Linked DNA regions of Homo sapiens. The protein of the gene in region 1 purifies or fractionates together with the protein of each later gene. This does not show direct contact. Each region holds a gene or a part of one and is shown in the gene's direction. Other genes may lie near its edges. The genes, in order: KRT78, HAUS5, BPTF, ARMC9, PPP2R2B and IFFO1.

What was found.
Region 2: the proteins of KRT78 (region 1) and HAUS5 purify together in Homo sapiens (affinity purification with mass spectrometry; one large-scale study listed by BioGRID and IntAct). This does not show direct contact.
Region 3: the proteins of KRT78 (region 1) and BPTF purify together in Homo sapiens (affinity purification with mass spectrometry; one large-scale study listed by BioGRID and IntAct). This does not show direct contact.
Region 4: the proteins of KRT78 (region 1) and ARMC9 purify together in Homo sapiens (co-immunoprecipitation; one large-scale study listed by IntAct). This does not show direct contact.
Region 5: the proteins of KRT78 (region 1) and PPP2R2B purify together in Homo sapiens (pull-down; one large-scale study listed by IntAct). This does not show direct contact.
Region 6: the proteins of KRT78 (region 1) and IFFO1 purify together in Homo sapiens (affinity purification with mass spectrometry; one large-scale study listed by BioGRID and IntAct). This does not show direct contact.

The regions. Positions count from the first base shown.
Region 1 is NC_000012.12:52,838,995-52,842,494, reverse strand, and holds part of KRT78 (keratin, type II cytoskeletal 78), read left to right. Parts: intron 1-2,510; coding exon 2,511-2,731; intron 2,732-3,007; coding exon 3,008-3,042; intron 3,043-3,122; coding exon 3,123-3,382; 3' UTR 3,383-3,500.
Region 2 is NC_000019.10:35,619,235-35,622,734, forward strand, and holds part of HAUS5 (HAUS augmin-like complex subunit 5), read left to right. Parts: intron 1-189; coding exon 190-270; intron 271-378; coding exon 379-524; intron 525-777; coding exon 778-889; intron 890-960; coding exon 961-1,093; intron 1,094-1,188; coding exon of another isoform or gene 1,189-1,205; exon of another isoform or gene 1,206-1,253; intron 1,254-3,366; coding exon 3,367-3,499; intron 3,500-3,500.
Region 3 is NC_000017.11:67,975,503-67,979,002, forward strand, and holds part of BPTF (nucleosome-remodeling factor subunit BPTF), read left to right. Parts: intron 1-269; coding exon 270-456; intron 457-3,500. UniProt on the Homo sapiens protein: Regulatory subunit of the ATP-dependent NURF-1 and NURF-5 ISWI chromatin remodeling complexes, which form ordered nucleosome arrays on chromatin and facilitate access to DNA during DNA-templated processes such as DNA replication, transcription, and repair.
Region 4 is NC_000002.12:231,355,631-231,359,130, forward strand, and holds part of ARMC9 (lisH domain-containing protein ARMC9), read left to right. Parts: intron 1-167; coding exon 168-304; intron 305-3,500. UniProt on the Homo sapiens protein: Involved in ciliogenesis. It is required for appropriate acetylation and polyglutamylation of ciliary microtubules, and regulation of cilium length. Acts as a positive regulator of hedgehog (Hh)signaling.
Region 5 is NC_000005.10:146,585,258-146,588,757, reverse strand, and holds part of PPP2R2B (serine/threonine-protein phosphatase 2A 55 kDa regulatory subunit B beta isoform), read left to right. Parts: 3' UTR 1-3,500. UniProt on the Homo sapiens protein: The B regulatory subunit might modulate substrate selectivity and catalytic activity, and might also direct the localization of the catalytic enzyme to a particular subcellular compartment.
Region 6 is NC_000012.12:6,542,543-6,546,042, reverse strand, and holds part of IFFO1 (non-homologous end joining factor IFFO1), read left to right. Parts: intron 1-3,500. UniProt on the Homo sapiens protein: Nuclear matrix protein involved in the immobilization of broken DNA ends and the suppression of chromosome translocation during DNA double-strand breaks (DSBs).

The DNA.
Region 1 (3,500 bases):
GGTGGGGCTAACTTCTCCTTAGGTAGATGCATTACAAGGGTCAGAAATAGAGGAAGAGATTGGCAAGGGGAGGGAGGCCGTTTCCTGCTCCTCCTGCGGTGTAGAGACCTCACTTCTAGATGTGAAGTGTTATGAATTCTCAAATTGTTAAGTATTCTTGCACTCATATTTCCTAAACCCAAAATATCAATTTGGGTGTCAATGGAGGATGGAGAGCAGAGACCACAGAGTCAGGCCATTTCCTCAAGCACTACAGCTTGATTCAAAAGTCACATGTGGTCCCTTGACTCCCAAGCAGAGCCCTCTGGGGAGGGTTCTTGGAGTATCCAGAACCATCCTCCTGGTTCTTGTTTGCAATGAGAAGCAGGGCTTGAGATGAATGTGATGAATCCTCTTACTCAATTTGCTGCCACTATGTTTCACCAACAAATTTGGACCCCTTGCTTTGGAGTCCTCTGGGGTGGCTATTAAGATCCAGATTCCTGGCCTCCTGGCAGAGCTGAGGAGTCAGAATCTCTAAGGATGGGGCCCAGAAACCTGCTTTTTAAATGAGGTTGCCCAGCTGGTTCTGAAGCATGTGGTCTTGAGAGTCCAGTGGCAGCACGCAGGAGTGTGTATGTGTACTGGGTACCTGGGTCTGGGAATCACAGCTCCTCACACAGCAATGTGCCTTTCCCAGGAGAATCCCTCCTGGAGATATAGCACTGTCCCCTGCTCCTTTTCCTGCACAAACATGATGAACTGGGCTCCCCTGTGCAGGCCCACGTGGGTTAGGATCCCAGTTCTGCCACTCTTCTTTCTGAGCCTCAGTTTCTTCATCTATAGAGTAGAGATTATGTTTCTATCCACAGAGTGGGAATCGATAATAACAGCCTTTAGACAATTCCTTCTTTCCTGAGTCAGATGTGAGGGCAAATCAACTGTAAGGCTGATAAAGACAGGGATCTCATCCTTCCTCTAGCTTTCTATTGTAAGTAAAAGGATTATATTTTCTTTTTTTTTTTTTTTGAGAAGGAGTCTCACTCTGTCACCCAGGCTGGAATGCAGTGGCGCGATCTCGGCTCACTGCAACCTCCGCCTCCCGGGTTCAAGCGATTCTCCTACCTCAGCCTCCTGAGTAGCTGGGACTACAGGTGTGTGCCACCATGCCCGGCTAATTTTTTTTTTTTATTTTTAGTAGAGACAGGGTTTCGCCGTATTAGCCAGGATGGTCTCTATCTCCTGACCTAGTGATCTGCCCACCTCAGCCTCCCAAAGTGCTGGAATTACAGGCGTGAGCCACCGCGCCCGGTAGAGATTATATTTTTCAAGTCCCAAATTGAGGCATATGTTTTGATGTACTCTGACAACAGGACAAAGTATTTGAAATGGGACTGTCTGAAAAAAATGAGAACCATTGTGACCCTCAGGGGGAGCCTTGCAGATAGTGATCCATGGTACAGGAAGAGCTTTAAGCACCCTGGGAGAGGTGCCGAGGGCTGGGGGTGGGAAGAAATAGGGAAAGAGCACTTGGGGAGGTGGCACAGGAGTTGTACTAGTGTCCTAGGCCTGTCATGACAAATCACCACAAATCGGGTGGCTTAAAACAACAGAAATGTAATCTCTCCCAGTCCTGGAGCCTTGAAGTCTGAAGTCAAGGTGTTGGCGGGGCCGTGCTCCCTCTGAAGGTGCAGCGAGAGTCCTCCCTGGGTCTTGCTAGCTTCTGCAGGCTTCAGGAGCTCCTTGGCATTTTTCGTCTTATTGCTGCATCATTCCCATCTCTGCCTCTCTCTTCTTCTTTCTATTTTTTGAGATGGAGTCTTGCTCTGTTGCCAGGCTGGAGTGCAGTGGCATGATCTTGGCTCACTGCAACCTCCACCTCCCGGGTTCAAGCAATTCTCCTGCCTCAGCCTCCCGAGTAGCTGGGACTACAGGTGCGTGCCACTATGGTCAGCTAATTTTTTTATTTTTATTTTTAGTAGAGATGGGGTTTTACCGTGTTAGCCAGGATTGTCTCGAACTCCTCACCTTGTAATTCACCTGCCTCAGCCTCCTAAAGTGCTAGGATTACAGGCGTGAGCCACCATGCCCAGCCCTGCCTCTCTCTTCTGATGAGCTCTTCTCTCTGTGTCTGTCTCTGTGTTCTCTCTTCTATTCATAAGGACACCAGTCATTGGATTTAGGGCTCACCCTAAATATGGTACGATATGATCATGAGATCCTTAATTAATTATATCTGTAAAGACCCTACTTCCAATAAGATCACATTCTGGGGTTCTGGGTGGACATGAAAGTTTTGGGGGATACTCTTCAACCTACTGCAGGAGGTAAGGAAGTGAGGGAAGCAATACCTTCCCTTAGAATGAGAGGAGCCTGTTGCAGGGGTGGTGTTGGTACAGACGGCCATGGATAATTTTGAGCTCATAAGATTATGATCCGCCCCAGCCTTCAAGTGATATCCACAGTGGGTGCTTTGAGAGGCTATGTTGGACTTACAACCACCTTCTCGCTCATTTCTACCCCGCTTCCAGAACGCCAGCCTGCAGGCCGCCATCACTGATGCTGAGCAGCGTGGGGAGCTGGCCCTCAAGGACGCTCAGGCCAAGGTGGACGAGCTGGAGGCTGCTCTGAGGATGGCCAAGCAGAACCTGGCCCGGCTGCTGTGCGAGTACCAGGAGCTGACGAGCACGAAGCTTTCCCTGGATGTGGAGATTGCCACTTACCGCAGGCTGCTGGAGGGCGAGGAGTGCAGGTGAGGGAGGCTTGGAGGGACCTGGGAATATGAGTTTGGGGAGGAGGATGGGATGCCAACACAGTGAGCTGCTTGCTAAAGAGGATTCTGAGAGATTTCCTGACATTGTGAGTTGCTAAGGGCAACCGACGCTGCAGAGAGGGATTTTAAGTTGGAGACTGTGGATTTTATCTGCTGAGAGGGTGGGTGACCTGCTTTGAGGGGCTTAAAAGCTCGTGGGGATGCATTCTTTGTAGTATTCCTTAGCGCATCCCCCTCTTGTCCTTTTCCCCCTAGGATGTCTGGGGAGTGCACCAGCCAGGTCACTATCTGTGAGTATCAGGGGACTTTAGGGATGGGATCCCCATGGGGAGCTGATGACCCTGCTCTGACCCGGTGCGTTTCTTGGCAGCCTCGGTGGGAGGCAGCGCTGTCATGTCTGGAGGAGTTGGTGGAGGCTTGGGGAGCACTTGTGGACTCGGTAGTGGGAAAGGCAGCCCTGGGTCCTGCTGCACCAGCATTGTGACTGGAGGCTCCAACATCATTCTGGGCTCTGGGAAGGACCCTGTTTTGGATTCCTGCTCTGTGTCTGGCTCCAGCGCTGGCTCCAGCTGCCACACCATCCTGAAGAAGACAGTTGAGTCGAGTCTGAAGACATCCATCACCTACTGAGCGACCCAGCAGCCACCTCCTTCCTGAACACATTTGGCCCACTCCCCCCATCAGCCGGCTCTGCAAGGCCAACTCCGTGTCCGCTGCCCACAGCCCAAGCCAGCCCACAGCGGATGCT
Region 2 (3,500 bases), on another chromosome or scaffold:
TCCAGCCTGGGTGACAGAGCAAGATGCTATCACTTAAAAAAAAAGAATGCTGTCACTTAAAAATTAAGAACTGGGCCTCCTAGGCAAGAGCCCAGGTGAGACTCCCAGGCAGAAGCAGGACCTAAGCAGAGAGGCACACTGAGGCTGGGAGCTGGGAGGAGTGGGTCTCAGGGTATCCTGGTTCCTCAGGAGGAGACCCAGGAACAGGTCCGCCTGCTCATCAAGGGAAACTCGGCCAGCAAGACCCGCCTGTGCCGGAGCCCGGGGGAGGTGAGATGGGAGTTGGGGTGAGGTCTGGGTAGGGCTGGATCTGCCAGGATGGGGCTGGGTGGACTTGTGATGTTGTGATGCCCCACCCACCCCTCCCCTTCCCCACAGGTGCTAGCTCTGGTCCAGCGAAAGGTGGTCCCTACATTTGAGGCAGTGGCACCACAGAGCCGGGAGCTGCTGCGCTGTCTGGAGGAGGAAGTCCGGCATTTGCCCCACATTCTGTTGGGCACGCTGCTGCGGCACAGGCCGGGAGAGTGAGACTGGGGCTGCCCCACCCCTGCCCTGCATCCCCTGCCATGGGTGACTGTCACTCCCTGAACCTCCTCAAAAAAGATAACCCCAGACCCCCAGTGTTCCCAGGCTGCCAGACCTCACCCTTGGGTCAGCAGCCCTGGTCTTGGCATCCTAGTCCCCAGACCCACCTTGAAGTTCCTGGGCCCCCAGAGCCTCCAGAACCCAAGGCCTCCTCTCAGTCCCCACCCAACCCAGACTTCTCCCCGCCCGTAGGTTGAAGCCCCTGCCCACGGTCCTCCCATCCATCCACCAGCTGCACCCCGCGTCCCCAAGGGGCTCCAGCTTCATAGCGCTGAGCCACAAGCTGGGGCTGCCTCCAGGGAAGGTGAGTGCCCGTCTCCTGTGACTTGTCTCCCCAGCCCCGCCCCAGGTGACCGTCCTTCCCTCCTCCTCCAGGCCTCGGAGCTGCTCCTGCCGGCGGCTGCCTCTCTTCGCCAGGACCTTCTGCTCCTGCAGGACCAGCGGAGCCTCTGGTGCTGGGATCTACTCCACATGAAGACCAGCCTGCCGCCAGGCCTTCCCACCCAGGGTAGGTCTGCCCTGCCACCCCATCCAGCCTCCCCGCCCATTCCCACTACCAGCAGCCTCCACGAGTCCTTACCAGCAACCCCGTTGTTTACGCAGTGCCCATTGTGTGCTAAGGGCTTTAAACATTCTCCCTTGTTTCATCTGCACGGCAGTCCCATAAGGTAAGTGCTGCTGTTCTCTCCATTCTACAGAGAAGGGAACTGAGACGCAGAGGTTAGTAGGTTGCCCAAATGGCAAAGCTGGAATTTGAATCCAGGTGGTCTGAAATGGGTCTGTGCTCCCAACCACTAAGCTACACTGCCGTCGACTTTCCACGTGTTCATTCATCACCGTCACATAGTATACCTCAGCAGTTCAAAGCCTGGGAATCCTCTCTGCCGTCTCTTCCTAGCTGTGTGGCCTCCCCGTGCCTTAGCTTCCTCCTCAGTGGAGTAAGCATGAAGCAATATCTTACCGAGGTGCTGGGCAGATTGAGGCAGGGGACCCACACAGGGCACTGAACACTGCCTGCTATGCAGTAAGCACCCTGTGTCTCCAATGTGATTAGCATCATTGTCTGTGTACACACACAGTCTCTTGGAGTCATGACGATGAGGAAAGGGACTTTTAAGAACCCCAGTTTACAGATGAGGAAACTGAAGGTTAGAGAAGTCATTCATTCCTGGATTCACTCACCAAATACTGGGTGTCTACCAGGTGCCAGCCCAGATGGCTTGATGGGGAGTGAGGAGAAAGGTCCCCACCCCAGGGGTTTCCCCAGATGGAAGTAAAGAGTAAAGAATGAAAGGATAAATACATGGAAGAGGAGAATTGATGAGAAATGAACCGGCAGTGCCAGCAGCACTGGAGGAAGAGACTGTTCAAGCCTCTGAGTTTGGGGCTCCCTGCCCTCCACTTCTTCACAAGGGGAGGGAACAGTGTGCAGGAGCAATGAGAGCAGCCCCAGACCCCACACGGCCTCTGCCCACCTCAGCCTCTGCCTACCACGCCCTCTGCCCACCTCATGTGTTTTTTGTTTTTGCTTTTGTTTTTTTGAGACAAGGTCTCATTCTGTCACTCAGGCTGGAGTGCAGTGGTGCCATCCTGGCTTACTGCAGCCTCAACCTCCTGGGCTCAAGCCATCCTCCTGCCTCAGCCTCCCGAGTAGCTGGGACCACAGGCATGCACCCCACACCCAGCTAATTTTATATTTCTTATAATCATGGGCATCTTGAACTGTACACATCTATCATGGAACTCCTGGTTCTCTCTACTCCAAAAAACAATTTTGTTCCTCTTCTTGGTTTCCTTCCTTGTTAAATTATCTCACCCTCCTCATCCAAGTGCTGCACCCAGAAACCCAGGAGTCATCCTGAATTTCTCCATCACCCTAATCCCCCCACCCTCACCAGCTTCAGCCTCTCAGCAAGCCCTAAGGGTCCCATCCCCAGAGTTCTCCCATCGGTCCCCTGCCCCAGTAATTCCACCTGACAGCAGACGGAGCTGAACAAAGAGCCAGTGTCGTGATCAAGGTCACAGGGCAGGGATGGGATGGGGTCAGGATTCAGGCCCAGCTTGTCTGATCACGCTGCTCGTCTGCACTTGCTGAGCTGGGCCTGTTCTGTGCACATGGAGAGGTAGGCCCAGTCCCAGTCCCAGAGGAAAGCACCGCTAGGGTGAAGCTAGAGCAGGCGGAGGAGGAAGCCTTGGAGCGAGAGTGTTGGAGGGGCCTCCAGGAGGAAAGATACTCTCTACTGTGGGCCCTGGGAATCGGCCAGGCTTTGCCACATCATGAAACTCAAATACCTGCTGAAGGGCTTGGACTCTGCCTTGGGGGCACTGGAGAACCTTGGAGGGTTCTAGACAGGAGGGAGAGCATCAAATTTAGGCTTCAGGAAGATCACTGTGGTGTAGTGCGGAGGGTGAACCAGAGCAGGAGACTGAGGCCTGGAGCAGAGGAGAGGAAGAAACGCTCAGGAGACTGAGCGGACAGGCCATGGAGATTGATGGGCTCTCACGGGGAGGGAGGAAGGCATCCAGAAGGAGGCCTGGATGGGGCTGGGGGTGGTGGACTGCCCTTGAGATGAGGATCTGGGAGGAGGGACAGGTCCTCATCTCAAGGGCAGTCCCTCAGAAGGGGACTTCCAGGCTGGGAAGAGAAGGAGACAGACTCATCATTGGTTTGCGGGAGCTGCTGAGGTCAAGACTAGGGGACTGGAGAATTGGGGACTCATTGCTGTAAGGTACCAGCGAGCCAGAGGACTCAAAGCTGCCTCCTGGCTTTCTCACCCTCAGAGCTGCTGCAGATCCAGGCATCCCAGGAAAAACAGCAGAAAGAGAACCTGGGGCAGGCTCTGAAGAGGCTGGAGAAGCTACTGAAACAGGCACTGGAGCGAATCCCTGAGCTGCAGGGGATCGTGGGGGACTGG
Region 3 (3,500 bases), on another chromosome or scaffold:
ATTTGAATGAAGAACGGTTCTGTGCAGTTACCTGAAAGTAAAAGAACCTTAACAGCAACCCGGATTTATATTTTAGAACCTCAATCAGAAACAAAATTGGAAAAGTACTCTTTTGTTCTTTATGAATTGCAAAATAACCTCCAGGGTGAACCAGCCTGGCTCCAGGACTGCTTGCACAGTAAACATATATACTTGTTAGAACTTCGGAGAATATTCACATTGGAAAAACCTTAAAGCTCTGAAAATGTTTTACATTTTGTGTTTTTAAGACCTTGCCACCATGGAAGAAAGAGTACAAAGACGATATTATGAAAAGCTGACGGAATTTGTGGCAGATATGACCAAAATTTTTGATAACTGTCGTTACTACAATCCAAGTGACTCCCCATTTTACCAGTGTGCAGAAGTTCTCGAATCATTCTTTGTACAGAAATTGAAAGGCTTCAAAGCTAGCAGGTGAGCAGATGGGTTCGGTATTCTGAATTAATTCAACTCTTCACACTCTTTATACTATTCTGTCTAACGATTCAACCAGTGCAGTTTATGGTAAATTTAACCTTAAATATCTTTAAAAAAAAAATAAATAAATCAAGACTCCAGGGTTATGATCTACTGCCAAGGAGAAGTGGACAAATTGCTGGGTTTGTTGTTGATCTACTTAAAGTCTTTTTTTGAAAATTCAAGAAGTGGCCGGGCATAGTGGCTCACGCCTGTAATCCCAACACTTTGGGAGGCCAAGGCAGGCAGATCACCTGAGGTCAGGAGTTCGAGCCCAGACTGGCCAACATGGGGAAACCCCGTCTCTACCAAAAATACAAAAATTAGCCAGGTGTGGTGACGCACGCATGTAATCTCAGCTACTTGGGAGGCCGAGGCACAAGAATCACTTGAACTTGGGAGGCGGAGGTTGCAGTGAGCCAAGATCACACCACTGCATTCCAGCCTGGGTGACAATGAGACTCTCACAGGAGGTGGGGGGAACATCCCAGCCTTGTCAACATAATGAGACCATGTCTCTACAAAAATTTAAAAAATTAACCAGGCATAGTGGCATGCACCTGTAGTCCTAGCTACTCAGGAGGCTGTGACAGGACGATCACTTGTGCCCAGGAGTTCAAGGCTGCCGTGAGCTGTGATTACACCACTGCTCTCCAACCTGAGTGACAGAGTGAGACCCTGTCTCAAAAAAAAAAAAAAAAAAAAAAAAAAAAAATAAGAATAAAAGAAGAATTTCCTGAGCTGATGATTGTCACAGGACTTTAAATTCTAGCAGAATAAATTCCTTCACTCAGCAAATAACTTTTGAGAACCTGATGTGTGCCTGATACTGGGAATTTAGCAGTGAATAAATTAAAGCCCCTGCACTCTATGAGGGGTGGGTGGAGCAAGGGGGACAGTTGATAAACATCATAAACCAGGTAGACAAATGGAAAAAGACTCACCCCTACATACATCGCTATAAAATTTCCAAATGCTAAGAATAAAAGAAACTCTTAGATAAAACCGACAATCTATAAAACAAGAATTAGATTGGTGTCAGATTTTTCTGCTGTGACATTTAGTGCTAGAAGATTATGGAAGAATAAATCTAAAAGTTTAAGAAAAAATGATTGTCAGCCTAGAAGTCTGTGCAGCCAGTCAAGTTTAGAGGCAGAATAAATATATTTTCAGTCATGTGAGGACTCAGGGCATCCTTTCTTGGCAGGTATTTTTAAAAAGTGTGTGCTATTGGCCAGGCATGGTGGCTCACGCCTGTAATCCCAGCACTTTGGGAGGCCAAGGTGGGTGGATCACTTGAGGTCAGCAGTTCAAGACCATCCAGACCAACATGGCAAAACCCCATCTCTCCTTAAAATACAAAAATTAGGCAGGCATAATGGTGCACGCCTGTAGTCTCAGCTACACAGGAGGCTGAGGCATGAGAATCGCTTGAACCCGGGAGGCACAGGCTGCAGTGAGCTGAGATTGCGCCACTGCATTCCAGCCTTGGTGTCAGAGTGAGACTCCATCTCAGAAGAAAAAAAAAAAGTGTGCTGTCAAAAATAAGGAAACAAATTTTTTCCTTTTAATAATGTATCTTCCTGTAATCCCAGCACTTTGGGAGGCCGAGGCGGGCGGATCACGAGGTCAGGAGATGGAGACCATCCTGGCTAACACGGTGAAACCCCGTCTCTACTAAAAATACAAAAAAATTAGCTGGGCGTGGTGGCACATGCCTGTAATCCCAGCTACTAGGGAGGCTGAGGCAAGAGAATCACTTGAATCTGGGAGGCGGAGCTTGCTGTGAGCCGAGAAGGCGCCACTGCACTCCAGCTTGGGCGACAGAGGGAGATTCCATCTCAAAAAAAAAAAGTATCTTTTTTTTTTTTGAGACGGAGTTTCACTCTTGTTGCCCAGGCTGGAGTGCAATGGCGCGATCTCGGCTCACCACAAGCCCCACCTCCCGGATTCAAGTGGTTCTCTTGCCTCAGCCTCCCTAGTAGCTGGGATTACAGGCATGTGCCACCACGCCCGGCTAATTTTGTATTTTTAGTAGAGACCTGGTTTCTCCATGTTGGTGAGGCTGGTCTCAAACTCCCGACCTCAGGTGTTCTGCCCACCTCGGCCTCCCAAAGTGCTGGGATTACGGGCGTGAGCCACCGCACCCGGCCATGATGTATCTTTTTATTTAGGGACAGGGTCTTGCTATGACCCAAGCTAATCTTGAACTCCTGAGCTCAAGCGATCCTCCCACCAGCCTTGGCCTCCCAAAGTGCTGGGGCTGTGAACCACTGTGCTGGGCCAGAAATATATATATATATATATATTTTTTTTGAGACAGAGTCTCACTCTGTTGCCCAGGCTGGAGTTCAGTGGCACAATCTCGGCTCGCTGCAACATCTGCCTCCTGGGTTCAAGCAATTCTGCTGCCTCAGCCTCCCAAGTAGCTGGGATTACAGGCAGCCACCACCATGCCCAGCTGATTTTTGTATTTTTAGTAGAGACGGGGTTTCACCATGTTGACCAAGCCGGTCTCAAACTGCAGACCTCGTGATCCGCCTGCCTCAGCCTCCCAAAGTGCTGGGATTACAGATGTGAGCCACCGTGCCCGGCCAGAAATTTTTGTTTATTTGAGTTCAGAAAACAAGTGGTTCAGGAAAGCAATGAGAATTACTCTGACCCAAGATGACATTTATACAGCAGGCTGTAAAATGTCAGCAGACCAAATCCTAGCAGGAGAATGGAGCACTCCCCAGAGGCTCAGTAGAGCAAGAAAATGACTCATACATTAGATAATTTGTTTAAGACAGAAAAACATAAGGCTATGATTAAGCCAAAGAACGTCAGGGATAAAAATGAAAGGCAATTAGAAACGCCACTAAAAACAGAAAGTTGTGTAAGTGTACCCTGTTAGCTGGGCACGGTGGCTCATGCCTGTAATCCCAACACATTGAGAGGCTGAGGCAAGAGGATGCTTGAGCCCAGGAATTCTAGACCAGCCTGGGCAACATGAGGAAACC
Region 4 (3,500 bases), on another chromosome or scaffold:
CTCCTGGCTCCTGCCAAGACCCTTTAGAAGGTCTGATATGCTAATGATGGTTTAACAAGACTTTGAGGCACCGCCCCCTCCTGTATTTGTGATGCTGCAGTCGGCAGTCGGCAGTCCGAATCTCCTGGCTGGCTGTACTCACTGCCGTTTTTCATGTTTTTCTCCAGGGTGGAAGACCAACACACACCTCCCCAGACAGCCCAGCACGCCAGAAACGGCCACCCGCAGGCCCTGCCAGCCGCTCACGAGGCTGTCTACAGGGAGGGCAAGCCCAGCACCCCGGAGTCCTGCGTCTCCTCTTCATGTAAGAATGTGGGCAGCACACTGGGTCAGTTCTGGGATTGTGATGTCTAGAACCTACGCAAAACAGCAGCAGGAGTGGCAGACGCACGTCTGCTCCTGGGAAGCCCTCTGGTCTCAGCAACAGCCCCGTGTCACAGAGGCTCACGGGATTCCCAGCCCACAGCCAGACCCATGCTGGGCTGGTCCTCTGCGTCCCCTTCTCAGAGCACTGCCTGTTGTCCCGTCTGGGAGCTCCTGGGGCAAGATTTCTGACTGGTGAAAGCCGGCTTTAATGTGAAATTTCGGAGGAGGAATGCCGGGCTGATGTTGATCTGTGACCCTGATTCTGATAGCTCAGATTCTGGTGCAGAGAAGGCCAGCCGCCTGCTGGAAGGCTGGACGGAGGCAGAAATGTGCAACTAAGAGCACAAACAACTCTGGGATCCAAACGCCTTTGAAACTTCCAGCTGAGTTAACCAGAGGCTGATGGGAGATAAAAGTATTTTTTAGATGCCAGAAAAAATATATATACTTTGAATCAGAAATGTACAAAGTATTTTTTTTAATTTTTGAAAGGAAATTAAAAGGATTATGAGCAGTTCAGATAAGACTCTAATTTCCATTTGAGTAGGAAAAACAACAGAGGAACGGGTTGGATTCCTGTCTGAGAAACATCTGAGAACTTGCATCTGCTCACAATTGGATTCAGACGCTTCCAGGCCCAGGTGCAGAGCGGTAGCTAGTGACGAGTCAGCACTGGCTGGGTTATTTGCAACTCCTGGGTCTCTTGGTGATGAGCAGTTTCAGAGGTTTTGCCAGCGTTGATCATCAGTTATTTTACATGTGCTTTACTAAAGCTGTAAATATTAATATGCTCTCCAAAGGTGAGCAGCTTAGTAATTTATCCAGAGATTTCTGCTGCCAGGGTGGAGGTCTTAGGGGGCGTCTGAAAAGTTTTGCCAATTTGACTGAATGCCATTGAGTTAAAACATTTCAAGTTCTTAGGCCTGGACTTCCTGAAAGGCTCCACAGTACATTCAGGGTAACGTAGCGGTAACATCCTTGCTTTACCAAAATGACCACTGAGAGGCCCTTTATTTTTGCACTGATTGGACGTGCCTTTGGGAAGCTGTCATGCTGTTACCTGCAGGGCGGAGGCACTTGAGGTTGGCATGGATGGAAATGGCCAAGGAGCAGCTGCTGCAATGTTGATGTTATTGTTGTTTTCAAGAACAGTTTACTTTAGCCCTGACAAAGTCTGGGCCCAGGCACATTCCGGGTTCTTGCATGAACAGGGTGGGCACCCACCAGGACACTCAGCCTTGGTGGTCACGGGCGGTTGCCAGTGCTTCTTCCTAGGGAGGCAGCAGCTGCCCACCAGCCCCCAGATGGACCGGCTGGAGGCAGAGCAGTGCTTTTCCCAAATCCCGCTGTCAGTGCCCCCATTAACCTGCCCCAAATGCTGAGACCGTGTTCTGAGTGTCCCTTCCTTAAGCCTGCTCCTATTGGCTCAGCCTGGCTGGGACCCAGGACACGGACCCACGCAGCCCTGCCCTTCTCCACCTGCCAGAGACCAGGAATAGTCACTGCCCTCCCTGGCCCTGCCAGGCCCGCTCTGAGCCTCAGGCCAACACCCCTAGTCCTCCTTTTATTTTATTTTATTTTACTTTATTTTATTTTATTTTGAGACAAGGTCTCACTCTGTCCCCCAGGCTGGAGTGCAGTGGCCAGTCATAGCTCACTGCAGCCTCACATTCCTAAGCGATCCTCCCGCATCAGCTTCCTGAGTAGCTGGCACTACAGATGCACCACCATACCAGGCAAAGTGGTTTTCTATTTTTTGTAAAGACGAAGTTTGCTGTTGCCTAGGCTGGTCTTGAACTCCTAGTCTCAAGTAATCCTCCTGCCTGAGCCTCCCAAAGCACTGGGATTACAGGCGTGAGCCATCATGCCTGGCCCTCTTAGTCTCCTTTAAAATCCTTTTACTTGACAAAAAGTTCTTCCTTTGGAAAAACCAAGCCCCAGGTGCAGTTTCCTCTGGGTCATGAGTAAGCCTTTGCCACGCTTGGAGTAGATTCCATTCTGACCTTCTTTCAGACAGGCCTGCCCACGGCCTGTTGCGTCTCCCCAGTTGGCCTCCCTGCCCCTCTCCCTGTCCTGTCACCTGCCTCTGCCTAAGGGATGGATGGCAAACAGCCCTCTGCTTCTGTGCTCCATCTGGGCTTTGCAGATAGGGGGACTGCGGTTAAGTCCATTAAGCCAGGGTATGAATGAGGGGGAGGGGGATGAGCAGCAGGGACAGCAGGGAGTGGGCAGTGCTGGGCTGGGCATGGGCACCCCTGAGCCATGTTGCCTTCTGCTTCATTCCTTCCCTGCTCAGGAGCTTGCTCTGACTTCCTCCAGACAGTCCTGCTTCTCCATCCCTCCCCTCCACTTCAATTGATTGATTGATTGATTGATTGATTGATTGTAGAGAGAGGTGTCTCTCTGTGCTGCCCAGGCTGGTCTTGAACCCTTGGGCTCAAGCGATCCTCCCGCCTCGGCCTCCCAAAGTGCTGGGATTACAGGCATGGGGCCCCCTCCACTTCCCTTCTCTCACTCACCTTGCCCCAGGCCCATCCTGGCCCCAGGCAGCGCTCCCCACAGGTCTCCTTGCACACAGCTCGCTGCTGAGTCTGGCCTGTGCTGGGAACTAACGCCCCACCCAGAGACCCCGTGGAAACCCCCACCTTCACGCTGAGTTTCTTGAGGAAGAGCCTTTGCGCTTTGCGTTCAGTCAGCACCGCAGGGAAAACTCATGAGGAGGAACCTGTTGGACCCTCAAACTGCTTGATCGGTTGAGTGCAGGCCCAGAAAGTACATTCTAGGCAAAAGACAGCCCCAAATGCCAACAGGAAATAGTTCCCAAGGGAAAAGGCCAATAATATGGCTTAGCATTTTGCAGAACGTTGGCCTAAGGAAAGCTATTCTCATTTCCCCACCAACCAGGACTATCTTCAATATCAAAATCACATGCCTTGGGACTTCATAGCCCTGGGAGTTAAAATGCCCAGCCCTGTCTGAAATGGACCAGCAGGCAAGAGATACTACTGTCCCAGGAAGACCCCGGTGCACACCCATGGCTGCCCCATCTCCTAGCTCCTGGCTGTCTTAGTTAGGGGGGTCTCCTGTTTTTTTTTTTTTTTTTTTTTGAGATGGAGTCTCGCTCTCTCACCCAG
Region 5 (3,500 bases), on another chromosome or scaffold:
AAATCAAGCAGCTGTGACATGAAGTGAATGAAGTCCACTTGAAGCTGTGGAAGATGGTTCATCCTTTTCCCCAGTTGAGGATCCAGATTTATAACTTCTAGAAAGCCATTTCCAGAAGGTTCTATGTGGCACACCCCTAGGAAAGGCACTAAATGCATGCAAAGGATTTATAAACTTAGGAAAGTAGATGGGTGGAGTCCAGAAAACTGGTTCTGGGTTAATATCTCTACATCTGTCTTGATGACTCATTTCTCCTAACTCCCATTTAGTGCAGGGTAAATGGTTTGAGATGAGAGTTTTTCAATGAAAGGGAAATTTTCTTTCAGTTTACAGATGTATTAGAAGTCCTGACTTTCAAGTGTAATTTGCTTTGGAGGAGGAAAAAATAGTGAAAGAATCATTTTATCTCAATTCTAAGCTACTATCCATTTACTAATAGCTTTTTGGCAAGGAAATAACTGTCACCTTAGGTAAAAACAGTCTTGTTAGATGCAGCCCAATTTCAGGAACATTAAAATGTAAAAAAGTACGTCTCAGAATTGAGGGAGCATGGGAACAAAGACGAGACTTTCTCAGTATTTCTCATTTTTCCTGCAAGGAAAGCCTCGCCTTAGGCATCTCAAGTAAAGTGGCTAAGGTGTAAACTCTCTGGGCAAGATTTCTGTCCTGACTGGGACAGTGTTCTTGGAGGAGACATGAGAGAGTCAGAAACTTCTGCCAGTCATAGAGAGTGATGATTTTGCAGAAGGCCACTGGGTTATTGGCCTACATTTACCACCGACTTCCTTTATGGCCTTTTCTCCACTTCTCCGGACTCAGCTCCTCTGTCTGTACCACGTCGGGGGTTGGGACCAATCATTGTATCTCAAACTTAAGAATCAACTCACATTTGTACTATTACTCATGTAACATTTTTTTAAGTCACCTTTTCTTAAAAGCAAGACTTAGCCTCCTCCAAAGAAATAATATGCATGAAATTTCAACTCTGATATGCTAGGTTTTTCCCTAACATTAATCACATAATTATCAATGTAACAAACATGCACCCACATACCACCTGAAATCATTTTGTGAACCACCAGGAGCATGTGTATCAAACTTTGGGACCCTGAGTAACTGATATGACAGAAGATTTATGCCCTTAGGGGCATCAAAGATGGTGGTTCTTCACATATTAGAGTCAGCAGGGCTGCCCATAACACACACAGGAATAATTTTTGTCATGGTTTAAGGAGTTCATAGGCCCCTTTGCAGTTTATCTGCGAACTCCAAATAAAAGCCCCTACACTAGTCCAACACCCTTAGCATATAGATGTACAAACTGGGATCCAGAGTAGGATGAGTTTGCCAGAGAAGAAAGAGCAGAGGGCAGCCATCCTCTCCTCCATCCCCTGCAAAGGATGCATTAGAGCAAACACCCAAGACTCCTGGACGGGAACAGGAGGGGAAAGCCCTAGAGATTAGGCCTCAGGGAGCAATAACCACCACGATGTTTCACAAATTAACTGTTCTTTACCAGGTACTGAACTAGGTATTTTACATGTGTGATCTTTCAGCCCCAGTACTGGCAATATTTCTTAGTTAGTGGCACATAGAAGTCAGTCTGTTTTCCTGCTGACACTAAAAACTACTTGAAGGCTGATTTGCTACCTTGCAACAGTTGGTTCGATTCTAAGGGCCCTATACTACTTTACCCCACAAGGCCTGCTGCTTGGTAAGAGCCATCAGATTACAACTGGAGGGTGTCAGTTGAATGAAGGAAAATGGAAGCCACGCCATCCCTGGCTTTTACAAAAACCATCCTTGCGCAACATTCAGTTCCTGACGTTAAAAACAAGTAATGCAAAAAGCTGAACTTTGGTAGACATTCGTACTCTTCTGTCAGGAGGAGGAAGATTAGTTAGAAAAAACAAAAAAGGAAGATACTAGCCAGCATCAAGAAGTGGGATATATAAAGGCAGATGGGCAGTGGGAATCAAGTTGCTTCTTAACTCCTTCAAGTTTGGCTCCTGCCTTTACTCTTCCATTGAAAAAAAAGCACCTTTAAACCTCTCATTGATCTTGTAATTAATTCAACCAAATCAACTTCTATTAGGCAACCAGCATATATAAGATGGAACAATTGCAAGGTGGAATAAAGATGAAGCTAAAATTCTGCTAGCTCAGTGGCCCAATGAAATAAGTCAGCTATCTCCACTAAACTTCCTTTGAATATTCTAGGGTCCATTATAATAAAAGGTACACACTCAAATGCCCAATTTCTAAGGACTTGAAAAGCCATAATTTCCCTCCCTTCAAGCCTACAGAGCAACTGCCTAAAGCTTCCCTCCCCAGACAACCCCAGGCCTCATTTCTTTTTCAGTCCCTTTGCTAGCTGCCTGCAGGGCTCAAGAAAGCCCTGGTAGGCCTCATAATGAGGATTTAGGGATGACACTATAGTCCACAGCCTGAATGGTGGAACCCTTACTAATTTTCCCTCTTCCGTGATGAATGTGTGGATGAAGCCGGTGTGTTTTTAATAATGCCACCCCACTTCCAAAACAAATCCCCTGACACAGTCTTTGGACATACCACCCTGAATGCACCCGATCTCATCTGATCTTGGAAGTGAAATGGAGTCAGGCCTGGTTAGTCTTTGGATGGGGGAAGTCTAGACACACCACTGAGAAACATTCACACTGCAACCTGATTCACTGTGCATCCAACATGCCTTCATCCACCTCTTCCCCCTGAACTTCTAAGTCAACTCTCAGGGACTGCTTTCCAAGGGAGCAACCAACCTGGTCAGTGGAAAAAGGATGAGACTGGGAGACAGGAAACGTGGGTCCTGCTCCTGGTAACCATGGAACTTAAGCTACCCACTCAGTCCCTATGTCAGTGTCATCACCTGTAAAATGGCCAGAAAGACATCTATCCTAGCTCAGAGAATTGTTATTGGGAGAACAAGAAATCCATTTACTTACAACTATTTTGATAGGTTTAAAGCACCATAAACTAATAATAGCAACAACAGTGATGGGTAATATACTATTGCTTTCCATGCCTCATCTCATTATCTCCTCTCCCAGACCCCATGGTGGCATTAGTATTTCCATTTTGCAAATGAGAAAATAGACTCAAGTTGTCAACCTAGCCAAGGGCACAAAGCCCGAGAGAGATGGAACCAGGACTCCAACTCAAGGTATCTGACTCTAAAGCCAGAGCTGTTAAAATACAGCTCTAACATACAATAGTTGCTAACATTTATTGAGCACTTATTATAAGCCAGGCTTTGTTCTACAAATTTCACATGTATTGACTTATTTACCCCTAAAACTCCAGATGCAGATACTATTGTTGTTCTCATTTTATAGATACAGAAACAGATGAATGACAACCAAATTTACACAGTTCACAAGTGACAAAGCCAGGCAGTTTTAGTTAAAGTTCTTATCCACTATCCCCATCATACATTATGTGTGTGTGTGTGTGTGTGTGTGTGTGTGTGTGTGTGTGTGTAT
Region 6 (3,500 bases), about 46 Mb from region 1:
CGGATAGAAGATTCATTCTTACTGTAGAGCTTACCAACCTCAGCATCGGATTCTTTTTCTTATTAAGTTGAAAACTTTTACCTTTTCACTTAAAGGGAGCATATTTTGGCTTCTCTTTCACATATCCAAATTGCCAGCATCACTACTCTTGTGCTTTGGGGCCATTATGAAGTAAAAATAAGGGTTCCTTGAACACGGGCACTGCCATACCACGACAGTCAATCTCATCACTGAGATGGCTCCTAAGTAACTAATGGGCAGGCAGTATAGACAGTGTGGATCCTTGGGACAGAGGGAGGGTTCATGTCCTGGTCTGGATAGAGTGAGGTTTTTTTTTTTTTTTCCGAGACGGAGTCTCGCTGTGTCACCCAGGCTGGAGTGCAGTGGCTTGAACTCGGCTCACTGCAAGCTCCACCTCCTGGGTTCACGCCATTCTCCTGCCTCAGCCTCCTGAGTAGCTGGGACTACAGGCGCCCGCCATCACGCCCGGCTAATTTCTTTTGTATTTTTTAGTAGAGATGGGGTTTCACCGTGTTAGCCAGGATGATCTCGATCTCCTGACCTCATGATCCGCCCACCTCGGCCTCCCAAAGTGCTGGGATTATAGGCGTGAGCCACCGCGCCCGGCAGAGAGAGTGAGATTTTATCAGGCCACTCAGAACAGCGTGCAATTTAAAACTTAGGAATTGTTTATTTCTGGAATATTTCATTTAATATTTTCAGATCAAGGTTCACCTTGGGTACCTGAAGCCGTGGAAAGTGAAACCAGTGGATAAGGAGAGAGTGACTTTATTCTTTTCATTTATTTATTTATTTATTTATTTTTTTGAGACGTAGTCTCGCTGTGTCGCCCAGGCTGGAGTGCAGTGGCGCGATCTCAGCTCACTGCAAGCTCCACCTCCCAGGTTCACGCCATTCTCCTGCCTCAGCCTCCAGAGTAGCTGGGACTACAGGCGCCTGCCACTACGCCCGGCTAATTTTTTGTATTTTTTAGTAGAGACGGGGTTTCACCATGTTAGCCAGGATGGTCTCGATCTCCTGACCTCGTGATCCACCCGCCTCGGCCTTCCAAAGTGCTGGGATTACAGGCGTGAGCCACCGCGCCCGGCCTTGACTTTATTCTTATTGCTGTCACATTGGAGGTGTTTGAGAAGGAAGTCGAGAAATTATTTTCCTATATACTCATTCTCCCAACACACATCAAACTGTCCTGCTCCTGCATCAAACCTGGTTTTCTTGGCCAGGTAGATGAGGTTTCCTGGATTTGTGCTGCTAGCTAAAGACATGGCAAGGGAAACCAGTACTCCCCACCCTCCCGTCTACCGCGGCTCACTGTTTCCTCCTCCTGCCTGACCTGATTCTTGTCTCCCTCTTTTGGATGGTGGATTTAAGGTTTGTGTTTTCACTGTGCCTTCAACCAACTAGGGGCCTTTGTGCGGCCATCTTCGTGAGAAGAGATCTCGGGCTGCCATCTCTCCCTAGTCTTCCCTGGACCTCAAGTGCCCAGTGTAAAACATGATCTGAAAGAACGAAAATAATATCTTAAATGGAATCATGCCTTTTAAGCTATTTTTGGCTGGGCGTGGTGGCTCTCGCCTGTAATCCCAGCACTTTGGGAGGCCAACGCGGGCAGATCACTTGAGGTCAGGAGTGTGAGACCAGCCTGGCCACCAACATGTGAAACCCCGTCTCTACTAAAAATACAAAAAGTAGCCAGGCATTGTGGTGGGCACCTGTAATCCCAGCTACTTGGGAGGCTGAGGCAGGAGAATTGCTGGAATCTGGGAGGTGGAGGCTGCAGTGAGCTGAGATTGTGCCACTGCACCACAGCCTGGGTGACAGAGCAAGATTCCATCTCAGGAAAAAAAAAAAAAAAAGTATTTTCAAATCATCTGACTCCTCCTCTCTCCCAGTGCAATGACTTTAGGCAGCAGTCCCCAACCTTTTTGGTACCAGGGACTGGTTTGTGGAAGACAGTTTTTCCACTGACCCGGGGGAAATGATTTTGAGATGATTCAAACATTACATTTATTGTGTACTTTATTACTATTTTTAAAAATTATTATTATTATTTTTAGAGACAGAGTTTTGCTCTTGTTGCCCAGGCTGGAGTGCAATGGCGCAATCTTGGCTCACTGCAGCCTCCGCCTCCCGGGCTCAAGCAATTCTCCTGCCTCAGCCTCCCAAGTAGCTGGGATTACGGGCATGTGCCACCACGCCTGGCTAATTTTGTATTTTTAGTAGAGATGGGGTTTCTCCATGTTGGTCAAGCTGGTCTCGAACTCCCGACCTCAGGTGATCCACCACCTCGGCCTCCCAAAGTGCTGGGATTACAGGCATGAGCCACCGCACCCGGCCTGTGCACTTTATTTCTATTATTATTACATTATAATATATAATGAAATAATTATACATCTCACCATAATGTAGAATCAGTGGGAGCCATGAACTTGTTTTCCGCAACTAGACGGTCCCATCTGGGGGTGATGGGAGATAGTGACAGATCATCAGGCATTAGATTCTCATAAGGAGCACACAGCCTAGATCCCTCGCATGCACAGTTCACGTAAGGTAGGGTTCAGGATCCTGTGAGAATCTAATGCCGCCGCGGATCTGACAGGAGGTGGAGCTCAGGCTGTAATGCCAGTGATGGGGAGCAGCTGTAAATACAGATGAAGCTTCACTCACTTGCCCACTGCTCACCTCCTGCTATTTGGCCTGGTTCCTAACAGGCCACAGACAGGTACTGGTCCGTGGCCTGGGGTTTGGGGACTTCTGCATTAGGGGAACCGTTAGGAGGACTTGCTGACCTCAGGAGTACCCAAGGTGCCTTTATCTTTGTGACCTTTGATCTCTCAGGGTCACTAAGATGGAGCAAGGTAAAGCCAAGGCCCAGAGTGGTGGGCGGGAGGCAGTTCTTCCCCACCGCTCCTCACCTCTCTCTGTCTCCTCCCGTCCCACCCCCAAGTCTGTTCACACAGCGAGCCTGCAGTTTTCAAGGTGGCTTGTCAAGGACATCTCCTGACATGCACGTTCACCTCCTGACCTTGTTCCTGCTGTAAATTTGTGAATTAAGTGGGGACATAGACATATGCAGAGACTACTGGTGGCAGTACTAGCCTTGTATTTCAGTAGAATATATTTGGTTCATTTCCTTCTTCCCAGTCTCCCTGAGTGATGGTTCCAGAACCCAGCTCCCTGCACTCCGGTTCTTCCAAGGTGGAGAAATTGGGGTGTAGGCAGCTGATCTGAACAAGGGCTGGTGGCACTGTATTTTCCCCCTGGGTTGAACAGTCACCGTGTCCTGCTCCTCCCACTACTGTGGGGCCCCAGCTGTGGATCCAAGCCTGCCAGGGAAGCTGTCCCCACTAGGGCTTCTCACCCAGCCAGCCGCCATCTCACCCCAAATGTCACTGTCCTGACCATCTCTGCTGTCTGGCCCTGTAACCTGTTTCCTTCTTTCTCTAAGTTCCCACCCTCTCTGTCCAATCCACATTATG